Homo sapiens: one gene and its partner. The protein of the gene in region 2 purifies or fractionates together with the protein of the main gene of each other region. This does not show direct contact. Each region holds a gene or a part of one and is shown on either strand. Other genes may lie near its edges.

What was found.
Region 1: the proteins of SLC31A1 (region 2) and STX7 purify together in Homo sapiens (affinity purification with mass spectrometry; 5 studies listed by BioGRID and IntAct, with this or other methods). This does not show direct contact.

What each region holds. Positions count from the first base shown.
Region 1 is NC_000006.12:132,468,117-132,475,116, forward strand, and holds part of STX7 (syntaxin-7), read right to left. Parts: intron 4,260-7,000; coding exon 4,166-4,259; intron 3,485-4,165; coding exon 3,347-3,484; intron 2,511-3,346; coding exon 2,458-2,510; intron 1,932-2,457; coding exon 1,835-1,931; intron 360-1,834; coding exon 287-359; intron 1-286. UniProt on the Homo sapiens protein: May be involved in protein trafficking from the plasma membrane to the early endosome (EE) as well as in homotypic fusion of endocytic organelles. Mediates the endocytic trafficking from early endosomes to late endosomes and lysosomes.
Region 2 is NC_000009.12:113,215,634-113,225,213, forward strand, and holds the start of SLC31A1 (high affinity copper uptake protein 1), read left to right. Parts: upstream 1-5,910; 5' UTR 5,911-6,045; intron 6,046-9,580. Other genes in the region: FKBP15 (FK506-binding protein 15), read right to left, coding at 5,558-5,610.

The DNA.
Region 1 (7,000 bases), on a different chromosome or scaffold from region 2:
AATAATGTTTCATGGTGCCTTCCATGGTCTTGGCAGCAATAGGCCCTGATTAAATTTGGGCTTCTGAAATAAATGAAGCTGGTTATTTCAACCAGCACGAGTTAAAAATGAGATCTGTTTTAGATAATGCCAAGGGTGATGCTTACTGTGTTTTATAGACCATGCTTTTGGTTCCAGGGAAACCAAAAAAGGGACAGAAAGTGGTTACTCTTCTGTGAGAAAGTTACAGCAGGTAAAGTGCATGTAGCTTGCTCTCACCTCCAAAATCTAAGTCAGCAGGTCTTACCTATTACATCTCCTTGTTCATGAATCATCATTCCCAAATCTTTAAATATTTCATTAATATCCATAATATCAGCCTAAGAGAAAACGCATATATTATTATAATCAGAAATTCAGTCCCCATTCCATAAAAGAGGAAAAATTTTAAAAACCCAAACCACTACTCACACATGGGTGAGCATGCATCTATAATACACAAATATAATACATAAACTTTGGAAATATCAGGAAAATATTTGACAATAATTAAGAAGAATTTGAACAATAGCCACCAGTTCTCTAAAATCAGTTTGTGGCATTAAAAATACCAAGTGAGCGAGGCAGGATGGAAATGAATGGAAATGAAGGATCTATAATAGAGAAGAGCCATGGATTGCTGAGTTCATTTTATACAACCTGATAGTTTTGTTATCACAAGCAGTATCTACTTACAAGGGTATAAAATATTCTTAGCATGTATTTCTAGTAAAATTTACACATCAATTTGACAATTTAAAGTAATAAAACATTAGGTGTAAATTTAAAGTCTCACATTAATAATTTGAACATGCAGTGGATTAGTGAAATGTCACTACTGAATAAAGAAGTTATAAACTTGGTGATTAAATATAAATTTACTTTTCTTCAATGACACAATTAACTGCTTCATAAAGTTTTTATAAGGACTAAATGAGATAATTAACATAAAGAATTCATCCCACAAGTGCCTGGCACATGGAAGGTCTTCAATAAATTGTAGCCATTGTTAGCTATTATTAGCCTTCTTTCTAGGAACTAAGTAGGTTCCATAAGAACTATGACTTAATAAATCCTTTAGATCTCTTTGATGTCATAAACATAGTAAAGAGAAATAAAATTCTTTGAAGGCCTTATAAAAGGTCTTACTCATGCAGGTATGATGTGTATCATGTGCTCTGGGAAGACATCCAGACTCTTGGACAGACATTTATCTCTACACTGGTATTTTCTCAATACTAAGGTGGTCCATAGATGGCTTGATATAACAATAATAATTTTTAAAAAGCTGCAGTAGGAGGGAGTATGATCCCTCGTCCTAGCACAAACAGTAAGGACAATATTATTTTTTTAAAAAAGGAATTATTCCAACTCATACATTACAAATGCTACCAAACTGATACATTAATTTTCTTTCTCTGGGCCAGACATGGTGGCTCACATCTATAATCCTAGTACTTTAGGAGGCCAAGGCAGGCAGATCACTTGAGACCAGGAGTTTGAGAACAGCCTGGCCAACATGGTGAAACCCTTTCTCTGCTAAAAGTACAAAAAATTAGCCAGGTGGGGTGACACGTGCCTGTAATCCCAGCTACTCAGCAAGCTGAGGCACAAGAATCGCTTGAAGCTGGGAGGCGGAGGTTGCAGTGAGCCGAGATTCCACCACCGCACTCCAGCCTGGGTGACAGAGGGAGACTGTCTCAAAAAGAAAACAAAATTTTTCTGTCTCATGCATTCTCCCAGCATTACCTAAGCATCTTGAGAACAAACTCACTAAGACCAGAGCAGCAGCCCAAGTCTACAATGTAAGCCTTACTTCAAGTTGCCTGATAGAAGATTCTCTCTCATGAATAAGACGGAGGTCATCCTCTGTAATTTCTTCATCCTGCACCTGCACTTGAGGTTGAGTTTGGCTAACAGAAAAAAATGAATGTGGAAAAAAACAAAGATTGGTATTCAAAACAATGGGACTCATTTCCTATTTAAGATATATTCATTAAATAGGATATTTTATTCTCCAAAGTCACAGAACTACTCAAAAAAATTCTAAGAATATAACAGATATATTAATAAAATTTATTCATTTTTCATTTCACTTATATCATTTTAGCTAATGTGAGTTTAGAGTTATTACTTAATTATTGGAAGCTGTATCTGTCAACTGGGTATTTCTTCTCAGCTGATTTAAACCTCATATAAGGGAATGTCTATATTAATAATTAAGTCCATAAACATTTATTTGGAAAACTTTATATATTTTGTAATAAATACTTTATAATTACTTAAAATTTTTTTCAAATTTACTCTGTTTTCAACATATAAACAACTTAGGATATTTATGATATAATATATTGAAAGCTTTAATTCTGTTCCAGGGACCTTAATGTATAAACTTTGAAAAATTACCTTTTGATCTGTAAAATGTTTTGTATTTCTTACCTTTCCCAGGATACAAGATTCCTTTCTTTTGAGCTGTCCTCAGGAAAACTGCCCTGAATAATTTAGTAACAGGATGGAATGAGAAGGGGCAAAAAAAGCAAAAATGAGAAAAAATAAACACTCATATTTTCCCTTATAATAAACTAAACTGATTTATGTACGTGTCTGTGTGTATGTGTGTGTGTGTGTAGAGACAGAGAGAAAGAAGTTCTTGTTCTAATTTTTCAGGTCAACTGCTTCAAGTAATAATATAATTATAAGTAATTTTATATTCTAAGTAGACAAGAAAGGAATTCACTAAATATTCTCAAGGATCAAATAAGTATTATTTAGTTAAAGCTTAATGTAGTCTTGGAATCCATATGTTAATGAATAAGAAAATAACTCATGATAGTTTCTAAGGGAATTTAAAATTAGATTAATTCAAAATTCTATTGTAAAGCTTCCTTTCATTTATTTTCTCCAGGCTCATGTTCATTTTCAATATTGATACAACATACTTGCGCCATTCATCTCCGTCATCTTGGTGTAATCCAGGAGGAAAGTGCTTTCTACACTAGCGTGTACACAAGCAGAAAGCCTCAGTACCAAGACGATGTGAGAATACTACTCAGGATTTGATCCCTAATCTTTTTTGACAAAATATGTCTCTATATTTTTATATACTCTGTAATCTTCTGTACTATGACACAAAAAATCACCACCGTAATACAAAATTATCATCCTTTTCTAAAAATGGAGCAGGAAAGCATAAAAATAAATATTCAAGAGCTGATTTCCAAGATATTCACAGATCTTTATGACTTAAAAAATTATGCTACTATAGACTTTTATGGGACCCTTAGCAAGTAACCATGTTCATTTCTAGAATGTCTTTTAAAATACTTACAGACACTCTGGAACTGGCTCTTACTCGAGCAACAAACTCTTTCTCTCGCTCAGCAGCCTGCCTCTGGACCTTCTGGAAGTTTGTCAGTGATGTTGTGAACTCTGCCACTAAGCGATCCTTCTGTATTTTCCTTTGACGCTAGAGGAAAGAGAAGAAAAAGCCAACTAGAATCTAGCTGTGAAGTTCAACTGAATTTGCGGTAGTTGGCTCTTTATTTAACCCTGAAGTTTTCACTTACTCCCCAATTACAGGGCCTTACAGATTAACTCTCAGTAACATTCTGATAGTATGTCAAATACTGTGCATATTTAACTTGAGGCAAAAGACCCATTATGCTGGATTTCTCACCTCAGGTTTTCACGCTGCTAAAAACTAGCTTATTATTTTGAGGCTATTTTAAAGTAATTCTTTTTCAGGCAAATAAAGCCTTATACTTTTAGCTAAGTAATAACTTCCATTAAATAAGCAGGGAAATAAATATGTGCCCCCAGGACACCTCACATCTTGAATGAGCCTGCATGTTCCACGCAGTCAGCCCCGGAAGGCCAGGAAATAATTACTCAGGAAGCATTTTCTGAGAACTAACTTAATTATGGGTCAGGGCAAATGCATGGAAATAATTTTTGCTTTATTGAACCACAGGATACTACCTGAGCAATTAAATATAGTTTTGTGTTCTGTGAACTAATCTCAAACAGAATTATTTTTGATTTCCTTTCTAGCATAATTTCCTTTCTAGCGTAACAGTTCAAAGATCCTACAGTGCACTGGGTTTTTTTCACATTCAATACATCAACAATGTGTCTTAAAGCTTGATACCTGTTCACTGGGGGTGGTGGGCAGAGATCCAAACTCTTTAATGTACTTATCTGTTTCTTTGGCAAGCTGGTTAGTATACTGCTGCTTCTGTTGCCTAAAGTGAGAAAACACGCATTACAGCCAAAGGACTAATATACTTCTTTAAGCTTCAACTCTGCCTTTTGAATCAACACTGATAAACAGTTGTACAAAAATTGCCTTTTCATAAACTGGCTCTCAACTTTCTCTATCAAAAAAAATTTCATATCCTATTCTTTGATAAATAATGAGCAAATATTATATGTCAGGTTCTTCACTCACACAGGGTAGGCAAGCTTAGAGAAATCAATTCAACGGCCATTTAGAAACACAGATGACTTGAATCAGAGGGAACCTGAAGGAGAGACTGTTAGATGTCTGATCCTTTATGTTTGAGATACTGGGGATGTGGAAGCCCTTTATCTGCATCTCACACCTGGAAGGTCAGGTAAGCAAGAAAAGATTTGTTACCTTAGACTTTGCCCAGTTCCCAGATCTAGTTATATCTGGCCTCTCTTATTTCTCTATGTGAACATGTATATGCTATAGATACTTAAAAAAAAGGCGGGGGGGAGGGGCCAGGCATGCTGGCTCACACCTGTCATCCCAACACTTTGAGAGGCCGAGGCAGGCGGATCACTTGAGGCCAGGAATTTGAGACGTGCCTGGCCAACATGGCGAAACCCCATCTCTACCAAAAATAACAAAAATTAGGTAGGTGTGGTGGAGCATGCCTGTGATCCCAGCTACTTGGGTGGCTGAGGCAGAAGAATCACTTGAACATGGGAGGTGGAGGATGCAATGAGCTGAGATTGCACCACTGCACTCCAGCCTGAGCAACAGAGGAAAACTCTTGTCTCAAAAAATAAAAATAAAAAGGAAAGAGGCAATATTGGTACAAATTTACTATTATTTAAGTTTACGCTGGAAAAAATAATGGCATTTCCTTGTAAAGGGAAAGAACACAATAAATAAAAGAAGTAAATTATAGTCATCCCTCAGTATCTGCAGATTGGTTCCAGGACCCCTGTGGATACCAAAATCCGCTGATGCTCAAGTCCCTGATATAAAAAGGTATAGCATTTGCATATAACCTATGCATATCCTCCCATATCTTTAAATCATCTCTAGATTATTTATAATACCCAATACAATAATGTAAATGCTATGTAAATAGTTGCTATATTTTATAGTTCAGTTTTTTTTTTTATTATTGTGTTGTTTTTTTTTTTTTCTTGAATATTTTTGACCTGCAGTTGGTTGAATCTGGGGATATATAATCTATGGATACAGAGTGCTGACTACATATCCATATTTTATCTAGCTATCTTATAAATTGAAAAGATTTCCAACTTAAAAACATGACACTAAAAAAAAGCTCATATTAATTGTGATGTTTTACAAATCACAACATCAGTACCTCTTATATATTTCATCTCATTTTAAATATGGTCTGGTCACACTTGGGGTCCTTTAAAATAATGAGATATTGTATAAGAATATGCTTAAGAATAGGGATCTGTATTTGACTGACAAAGGGTAATTAAAATCTATTTCTATCTCTATTTACCAAATACCCTATCTTTAATGCATTTTTGTAAATCTCTGGAAATCATAATATAGTCAAAGTTTTAAAAAGAAGACCTTAGGCTGGACATGGTGGCTCATGCCTGTAATCACAGCACTCTGGGAGGGTGAGGTGGGTGGACTGTCTGAGCCCAGAATTGAAGACCAGTGCCGGCAACATGGCAAAACACCATCTCTACAAAAAATACAAAAATTAGCCAGGCATGGTGGATGTGCCTGTATTCCCAGCTACACAGTAGGCTGAGGTGGGAGAATCGATTGAGCCTAGGAGGTCCAGGCTGCAGTGAACCGTGATAATGTCACTGCACTCCAGCCTGGGTGACAGCATGAGATCCTGTCTCAAAAAAAAAAAAAAAAAAAAAAAATCCTTAGTGACTACGGATATATATTCAGAATCTTCATTATTAACTCTATCAAAATATTAGAACTTTTATGAATTATGTACTTCTATTCCATTTTACTTTAGTTTAATGAATTGTGGTTTATTATTTAGATTTGGAGCATTTTTACCATTCTGACACTTACCCACTGTGGAAAAATAAAATATAAATTAGAGATAATTGTAAGTCCTTCAAATTGTACTTCCTAAAAATATGAATTCCTATTACCTATCTTTTAATATCGTCCTCTTTGCAGTTTTCCCTCTATAGTTAATGTTGTTTAGAAGTATTGCTTACTAGATATATGTGACTTGAAATTTACAGCTGTAACAGTACTGAAATAAAATTTAAGAGTTAAGTTCTAAATGACATTGGGTAACTCGTTAAACCCGTAAGAGACATGAACAAAATGGAAACAGTTCTTTTGGTCTATTTCTCTTACTCTAATTCTGTAAGGTTTAAATGATAAAATATGTAAAAATACTCTGTAAAATCCACAACATACCACAGACAAAATATTATCACTATGACTGCTGGTCTTCTAACAGCATATTAATTTACTGGAATATGTACTATATAATTCATTATAACTTTTTTTTAAACGGAAGCTAATGCTCTCTGAAATTCAAGGATGTAGGTATAAACTTGTGGGGAGACAGCTCACGTAGCTGGTTATGTATTGGATCTAAACCAAATAAAACTCTGGTGACTGCGGGGATTTTTAGCTATGGAAAGTAAATCACATAAATTGAGATACTAGAGTATAATTTTTCAACAGCTGTCAAAAACAACCTACCTAAAAACTGTAAGAAATGCAACTAAAGAAATTCTGCTTTGATAGGGTAAGCCT
Region 2 (9,580 bases):
ATATATATATATTTTTTTTTTTTTTTTTTTTTTTGAGATGCAGTCTCACTCTGTCGCCCAGGCAGGAGTGCAGTGGCCCAATCTCGGCTCACTACAACCTCCGCCTCCTGGGTTCAAGCGATTCACATGCCTCAGCCTCCCAAATTGCTAGGATTACAGGCGTGCATCACCATGCCCTGCTAATTTCTGTATTTTTTAGTAGAAACAGGGTTTTGCTATGTTGGCCAGGCTGGTTGCAAACTCCTGGCCTCAAGTGATCCACCCGCCTCAGCCTCCCAAAATGCTGGGATTATAGGTGTGAGCCATTGCAACTGACCAAGAGAATATTTTTGAATATTAAGAGAATTACCAAAATGTGACACGGAGACACGAAGGGAGGAATTTTGCTGTTGGCAAAATGATGCCAATAGACTCACTCAACACGGGGTTGGACACAACCTTTATTTTGTGAAAAAAAAAAAAAAAAAAATCTGCAAGGCACAATAAAGCAAACCGAAAAAAAAAAAAAGGGGGTATGCCCAGTGTCTGGTATGTAACAGGCTCAGTAAATGAATTCAAAGTCTAGTCTGGCTCTGAGCACTTCTTCTCCAAAGGCATCCTTAGTTTAGGTGAAGTAAACATTGAAACTTCCCAACAAGTTATTTTGGCTTTTCAGGTTTTTTTAAAACAAGTTTTATGTATAGAGAAATATGCACTAGCATTTTACAAAATAAATTTTATATGACTTGAAACTATTACCTTCTTTTCTCAAAGTAGTCTAATGTAAGTTTAAGTTTCCTGTAAATAGGCCAGAAATGCCTACTGTAAAGGACTAAGAGGTTTAAATGAGATTGTAAACGCAATGCTTGAGTGAGAGCAGCGCTGGCCTAAAAAGACATCACCAAATGCTTATGGAATTTAGAAGACAGCAAGATTTGTCCTTTCAGGCAGGAAAATTCGGGCAAATTGCCTAAAGAATAAGATTCTGGAAGAGTTGGGTTTCACTATCTTTAACACAGTGAAAAATGTACAAAGCTTAGCACCTAGTTAAGATAACATAGCTTATGCACAGATTACTGATAAGAAATGAATGTCCTTGTTAGCTTCAGTAAACCATGAGTATTGGGCTTGCTGTTTTAATTTTGCAGGTATAGCCTTTTTAAAAGGAAAGACAAGAGTGTCATAAGTGAACTGTGTTTCCATAGATGTTCTAAAGACCAGCCAACTGAAGACTACAAAGTCGATCCAAAAGCCAGGTCAACCTAATTAGTTTTCAGATTAATTCCATTTTCTTTTTTTTTTTTTTTTTTGAGACGGAATTTTGCTCTTGGCGTCCAGGCTGGAGTGCAATGGCAGGATCTCGGCTGTGCAACCTCCACCTCCAGGCTTCAAGCGATTCTCCTGCCTCAGCCTCCTGAGCACCCGAGATTACAGGTGCCCGCCACCAGGCCTGGCTAATTTTTGTATTTTTAGTAGAGATGGGGTTTCACCACATTGGCCAGGCTGGTCTTGCACTCCTGACCTCAGGTGATCCACCTGCCTCAGCCTCCCAAAGTGCTGGGATTACAGGTGTGAGCCACCACGCCCAGTTTTTTTTTTTTTTTTTTTTTTTTTTAATGAGACGGAGTCTTGCTTTGTCACCCAGGCTGGAGTGCAGTGGCACGACCTTGGCTCACTGCAACCTCTGCCTCCCAGATTCAAGCGATTCTCCTACCTCAGCCTCCCACGTAGCTGGGATTATAGGCACCTGCCACCACACCCAGTTAATTTTTGTATGTTTGTAGAGACGGGGTTTCATTGTGTTGGCCAGGCTGGTCTCGAACTCCTGACCTCATGATCCACCTGCGTTGGCCTCCCAAAGTGCTGGGATTACAAGCGTGAACCACCACGCACAGTCCCATTTTCTATTAATATCTTTAATGGACTCTGCATCAACTTGGGAGATAAGTTACTTGTAAATTTTTAGCAGGGCATGGTGGCTCACTCTCAGAGGCTGAGACAGGAGGACTGCTTGAGGCCAGGAGTTCAAGACTAGCCTGAGCAATATAGCAAGAACCCATCTTTACAAAAAATTAAAAATTAGCCAGGCGTGGTGGCATGCGCCTGTAATCCCAGCTACTTGGGAGACTGAGGCAAGTGGATTGCTTGAGCCCAGGAGTTCGAAGCTGCAGTGAGCCATGACTGCACCAGTGCACTCCAGCCTGGGCAACAGAGAAAAACCCTGTCTCAAAAAAATAAATAAATAAACAAAAATAAATAAATTTTTAGATTTTTCCACTACTAAGGAACTCTCAAATGTACACAATCTCCCTATGTTGGCAAGAATGAGCTTGCTAACTCTGGACTTGAATCTATATTTATAATTCATAGGAAAAGTCATGACAGAATTAACTACATTAAAAAAAAATGTTAGACAATGCATTTAGTCGCCAAGGACCTCACCTCACCTCAGTTTTATATTTTCTTTCTCATCAAAAACAAAAACACATGCATTTATACTGTATCAATGTATTTTAATAAACAGAGATTCTTTTTGTTGGTAAAGTATTAATACTTTTTTAAACAAACTGACATCAAACATCCATTTCAATAATAACAACAATAGCACATAGGCAGGTCTGGTAGAATCTGCCTACCTGATTTCAGATCCAGGCTCTATTACTTTCTAGCTGCATGATCTTGGGCAATTTACCTCTCTGAGCCTTTCCCATTTGTAAAACGGATATAATAATTAATAGTACCTCATAGAGAGGAGTAAATACAATTATATATATATATATATATATATATATATATATATACATTTCTCATTTGTAAAATGGGCATAGTAGGTAAAATTATTTCATAGAGTAGAAGGGAGGAATAAATACAATAATGTCTATGTATTTCTTAGAACAGTGTATGGCATTAAGTAAGCACAGAGTACGTATTTATATACTTGTGAACACATCCTATTATCTCAAAATGTGGTTCAACTCAGATACCCCTGCAAGGGTGAAAGCATGCTTGATTGACACGGAAGTTGACCTGCAACCATAAACTGGTATTAGCATTAACATTAAAACTACAGAACTGGCAAAGGTCTCAAAGTTTATCTAGGTCAAACCTCATTATTGAATAGGTTGGGGTATGGAGGGACAAGGATGGAAGATAATCTGTCCAAAGTCACATTCCTAACTGGGGATAGAATCAACATTTGAATCTAGGCTTTTTCCTATCTTTTACAGAACTCAAAATGCTTTCTGATGATCGGTTAATTTATCTTTCTACCATCTTTAGACTGGTGATTTATCATTACTATGCTAATCGGATCTGCCTACACATACCTTTATAATCTAAAACAAATATATACATAATTGGCCCCTTAAAAATGCTTTGTGATTATTATTCCTGGATTGATTTTATTCTACTACTAAAATAAAAGTTTCTTAGGGGCAGAAACTGTGCCTTATTCCTATCTGGATTAGCTGAAGCCAAGTACTATTAGTTCATTACTATTACTTCCCACAACGGTGAGGAATGGGCTAAAACAAACTAACAAACAAAAACAAGGCTCCTGATTACTACTTCTAGATTAATAGTAAACTCTAAGAGGCCTAGAAACTCAGAAGGCAGATTATCAGATACTCCTACTTCTATTAGGCTTGAATATCCTTCATGAAATCAAGCAAATCATGTGTTTAAATCAAGAGACTTGGAACTTAAGCAAGTATACTTACAGTAATATATGGCTATAAAAGAGGAAGTGAAAAGTAGCTGCAGTATTCACTGTCATATGTTCTACTTCCTTAGAGAAAACCAAAAAAGGAATAGCTAAATCAGAGAATTGTGGTGAAACTTTCTGTATTCTCAGTGTTAAATTTGATTTGGTTTTCCTGATAACTGTGGGGAACAAAAATAAACTATAACTTTCCTCAGTATGTCTTTTACCATCAAATTAGCTGTTGTCTATGTCTAGGAGCACAGTCACATGCCTAGAATTCAAGTGTCTCAGATCCTTGAGAAGCCTGCTCAGGAAAAAAGAATAGTTGAGCCACCAAGAATTTATCTCTGGCCAGGAATCTGGAAAAGAGCACATGGCTGTCATTACCTATCCCATAATTTTCAGTCAGCTTGGACTGATTGTTGCATGAAAATTGGGAGCCCTAACATTACAGACTTCTCCCAAATACTTTCACATAGTGAAGAATGCGAATTTAAAGTGGAATAGGGAAAAAAGGAACAAAAGCACAGCTTAACTGTAAAATAACTGAGAAACGGAAAGAACTCAAAGTGGAACTAAGTGAATGCAGGCCATCTAAAGACGGGGTAGGAAGGGAACAGAGTGGTGAGAGTGAAAAAGACTAAAAGGTAGGTAATATAGAGCTAGTCAGTGTAAATCAAAAATTCCTACTTAAGGACAAAAGAAGGCCAGTGTCATTTTATGGTCATTCATCTATTAACTCATTTGTTTATGTATTGTCTATGACTACTCTCACCCTACAAGGCAGAACTGAGTATTTGTGGTTGCAATAGAAACCACATGGCCCAACAGATCTGGAAGCAACTTAAGGGCAGGCACAGCAGTTTAATCATTTTTGTAACCTCTTAGCATTTAGCAGAATAAGGGGCATATGTGGTGCATTTGTCATTTTTCCAGTACATTCTTCAGCACGCACAAAATTTGTTAAGCATATGTTCAAAGAAAAGCTCTGCAATGATCAGAGCTTGGTAGCTCACAAGTTTGGAGGAAGTCAAGCTGTCCACTGGCACAACACAATGGAAAAGGCTAAACTGACTACTAAAAGAGACAAAACCCTTCCTCTCTTTAAAGATTTCTATTCCAGGCTGGTATATATTAATATAATGCTTGGGGAAACTGGAGAATGACAGAAGTCTGTTACGTTGGTTTTAAGCTTTAAGCTTTACAAAGTGCAATTTCGCAGCTATTATTCATTCAACAGCCACTTCCTGAGCACTCACTATGTGCTAGGTACCATGCTGCATGCTAGACAGAAATGAACACCATAAGCAGTCCCTGTCCGGTGAGGACTCATAATCTAATAGGTGCGGGGTATAAGAATAGAGGCAAACACACCTAGCTGCAGGAATAAGGAAGAGAAAGCAATTCATTCTGCCTGAGGTTGCAGAAGGAAAAGCATCCAAAACGTGACATCCGAGCTGGGCCTTGAAGAATGCTAGAGCTGACCCACCAAGGCCTGGTTCTAAAGTGTCTTCGCCTTCTCCATGGAGAAAAGAAGTCTCACATCAGCCCCAGCTGACTCCTATAAAAATTCTGAGGCAGGAAGTCTCATCAGCAATCATTCCCATTTCACCGGAGAAATTGTGACCCAGAATGCAAAAGGCAAACCCAGGGCTATCTTCCCGCCAAGAGAGATGCCGGGTCCCGAACCTCAGATCGGCAGGGTCAGCACAGTTGCAAGTTCTGCCCAGATTCTGAGAGGTGTAGAGCACCGGAATGTGGCAAGGGTCTCCCCCCGGAAGTTGGGAAAAGGCCTGAGAAGAGATCGACCCCCCTCCAACAATCCGCCGGTATCTCTCAGCCACGCCCTCCAGCGCATACTTCTCAGTCACTCACCCGCCGCTCGGCGAGAGGAAATCGGTGTCGTCCTCGTCCCCCGCACCGAACATTGCGTTGGCTTTCACCGGGTTGCGGGGAGGAAGCTGGGTATTCCCAGAGTCCCAGGGCCTGTCACCGCCGACGTCGTAAAATGCCGCGGCGGCGTGCTGCTTTCCGGCAGGGCGAACTCCAGCACGGTCTCTGGACCGAAAGTAGACTGGGCTCTGGAGAAGGTGGGGCAAAGGCAAATGAGAGGCTCGCGCGGGCACGAGCGCCGAGTGACGTCAGGCCTCTCCAGCCCGCAGCGGGGCGGAGCTTCACAGCCCCTTGCAGGGATTGGTCGGTAATGCTAGGGGGCGGGAGGGGGCGGGAAATCCTCGGCCTCGGTGGCGGTGGTGGACACGTCGAGCCGGGTAGAAGTGGAGGGGCCGTTCGAAGAGTCGTGAGGGGGTGACGGGTTAAGATTCGGAGAGAGAGGTGCTAGTGGCTGGACTTGACCTGGAAAGGTAAGGCTTCTCTCGGCCCCTCTTTCGCACCCCTGTGCATGGGTACCGTCCTTTTCCCAGCGGGACAAGGACCTTCCTCGCCGCTTTCCTCAGCTCCGCGGAAGGAGAAAGAGCTCGGGACTGGAGGGTTAAAGACTGGGGCTTCGGCCCGGCCCCTGCAGTGGCATAGCCAGAGTGACCTTGGGCCGGGGTGCTCGGTGCCTCAGTTTCCCCGTGTATGCAACCGGCCATTTGTCCAGTTCTTCCATGTGCCTGCTGGTCCAGAAGATTTTAGAGCTCAGAGGCCATGGATTTCAATCCCGGCCTCCTCGTAATCTCAGAATTTACAGATAGGGAGACGAAGGAACTAAGCACCCGGGTGACTAGTCCGAGGTCACAAAGAGTAAAGGGCAGACTGAGACTGGATTCCTCGTCCTTTGATTCAGGACATAGTGAGCTAGTGGGTGAACAAGAACCTTATCAGCCCTTAAGCACTGTGTGCCCTTACAGAGTGACTATTGAAAGACTGTAGCATACACCTCGAGGAAAGTCCCCTTTCTAGAGTCCACCTGTATTCTACGCGGATGAGGTGCAGAAGAGCTAAGATATTCTGGCGGTGGGTGATGGAAAGGAGGATACTTTGGAGGCAGACACATCCCCACCCCAACTTTGGCGTGGGTTTCCCTGGGTCTTCCTGCGACAGCCCTAAATCAACATCAATTGTGGCGGACTCCTCTGCCTCCAGTTTCCACCCTATCTGTATCTTACATAAGTATTTCTTTGGTTAACCTGGTATCATTCTCGAAACAATCCTGGGGTAGTCCTGGCTTAGACAAGGTGTGGCTAAGGAGATAGTGTCCCAGCGTAGCGTCCACAGACTCACTGGAGTTCTTGGGCTTCCCCTCACAGTCAGGTTGGTACTACAGGTGTCCCTTACGTGAATGTTTCAATCTGTCAGTATGAAATTGAAATGAAATGATTGGTAGCTCCCTCCCAGAGAACTTTGCACCTCCTGGCAAAGATGTTAAAGCAGCGAAGGCTCACAGTTGGAATGATGCAACTGGAATCTAAGCACTAGAACCGGAACTGGAACTAGAATCTAAGGACTAGCACTAGAACTGTTGCAGTAGCTCTGTTTAGTGTGTGAACTTGGCTACCTCTTGGAGGTGTTGGGGGAGTAACTGGATTAAGTACCATGGCACTTTCTAATCCCTCTCCCCAACACCGGTCACTGTGATTGCAGCACTGAAACATCTAAATGTTTAACAGAAAGAGCTTGCTAGCCCCTGGCTTACATTATCTATGGTATTTTTAACATGGAATGAATACTTAAAGTCACTTGCAAAGCAGTCTCACTGCAGAATCTTTCTAGGTGTTTATGACATGTCCTTCCAGCCTTTTCTTTAAAAAAAAAAAATGGCCAAGGGAATATTTGAACTCTTATCTTGTATTCTTGGGTGGAGCTGATTTTATCCTGGATGTTTAAGTAGCTTTTGTAGGTACTCAGGAATCCTAAAATCAATAGCCTTTTTGGTGATTGGAACATCACGAACATGCATACGCAGATTATCACTGTAGAAACACAGCTGCTGATTCTCATTAGCAGTATGAGGAGGAGGAAGATGATGGTGAGTCTTGCCAGGCTTTGAACTGCAGGACTGGGTGCACCTAAAAAAAAAAAAAAAGAAAGCCACTGTCTTCCTAAATTCGTGTATCTTCAGATTGGTAATACTGGACTAGGAATCAGGAAATCTGAATTCCTGTCCCAGCCCTTATAACTCACTCTGAGTTTGGGCCAGGCTCCCTAAGCACTGTAAAATGAGTGGATTAGACCTGGACTTCTACTGAGTAACTGCTGGGGATACAAAGGTAAGTAAGGCACAACCTTGATCTCAAGTTTAAAGTAAGCATTTTTGTTTATTTGTTTTGCTTAAGTATACAACTTTTAGAATACTCATAAAATATATTGTCAACCCCCAGAAGATTGGCCAGGAAGCAGCAATTTTTTTTCTCCACCCTCCACTCCCCTTACTCCCTCAGGGAAGCAGCAATTTTAATAATTATTTTCAAATTATCAGCAATTTTGCAACAGAGATGACAGTCTTTATATACGAGTATACCCATACTAATCTGTAATGATGCATGCATTTTAAAATTAGTAGTTTAAAGTTATAACCAAGTTATATCAGGCATAATGATAGGAATATGAATTAAATGCAGGTTCTAGGGGATCTATAACATTCCGTTCACTCAGTCACTGAAAGCAGACTTAGGGCCATTAGTTGGTTAACTGAAGAAGTAAGTTAAAGCAGGGAATCATACAGATAATAGTTATATGCATAACATTTTAACGAACACATAAACATTCTTTTGCCATTCTTTTAACATAAGGCCTCAGCCTTTTCTTGGAGTGTAGGACCCTGTTGCCTGTTTTTATAAGTAAAGCTTTATTAGAACACAGCCTTTCTCATTTGTTTATGTATTGTCTATGACTCCTCTTACCCTCCAAGGCAGAATTGAATATTTGTGATTGCAACAGAAACCACATGGCCTGCAACATCTAAAATGTTTACTTTTGGCCCTTTATAGAAAGAGCTTGCTAGCCCCTGGCCTACGTTATCTATGGTATTTTTAACATGGAATGAATACTTAAAGTCACTTGCAAAGCAGTCTCACTGCAGAATCTTTCTAGGTGTTTATGAAATGTCCTTCCAGACTTTTCTGTTGTCTCCCACACCTAACAGCAAGTTTATGTGTTATCTGTATGCTCACTTTTTTTTTTTTTTTTGAGACAGAGTTTCGCTCTTGTTGCCCAGGCTTGAATGCAATGGCACAATCTCGGCTCACCACAACCTCCACCTCCCGGGTTCAAGCGATTCTCCAGCCTCACCCTCCCGAGTAGCTGGGATTACAGGCATGTGCCACCATGCCCGGCTAATTTTGTATTTTTAGTAGAGACGGGGTTTCTCCATGTTGGTCAGGCTGGTCTGGAACTCCCGACCTCAGGTGATCCACCCGCCTTGGCCTCCCAAAGTGCTAGGATTAGAGGCGTGGGCCAACGCACCCGGCCTTGTGTGCTCACTTTTATCTGGTCTTTCGAAAGCATTCAGTGTGGTGTTTTAGAAATAACTACTAGAGAGTCTATGTAGTACAGTAGTTAAGTACTTGAGCTCTGGAGCCAAATTGCTTTGCCACTTATTAGTTGTATAGGCCATAGACAAGTTACTCAGTTTTTGCCTTTGTAAAACAGGCATAATGGTAGTATCCATTTCTAGGTTTCTTGTGAATATTATAGGAGTTAATTCATGTAAAGCATTTAGAACAGTGCCTGGCAGGTAGTAAGTACTCAGTGTTAATTGCTGCTGTCATTTTTCTCTTCTCATTTATACTTCATTGCTTTACATAGTATTTACGTACTTTCAGTAATAAGCACAACTGGCATAAATAGGTTTGTGAATAAACACACTGTCACCATTGATAAGCACACTTCACAGAGGGGGAACCAGAAGTGTTGTTCCCATCACATTGGAGAATAGCCTAATGGTGTGATGTCAGT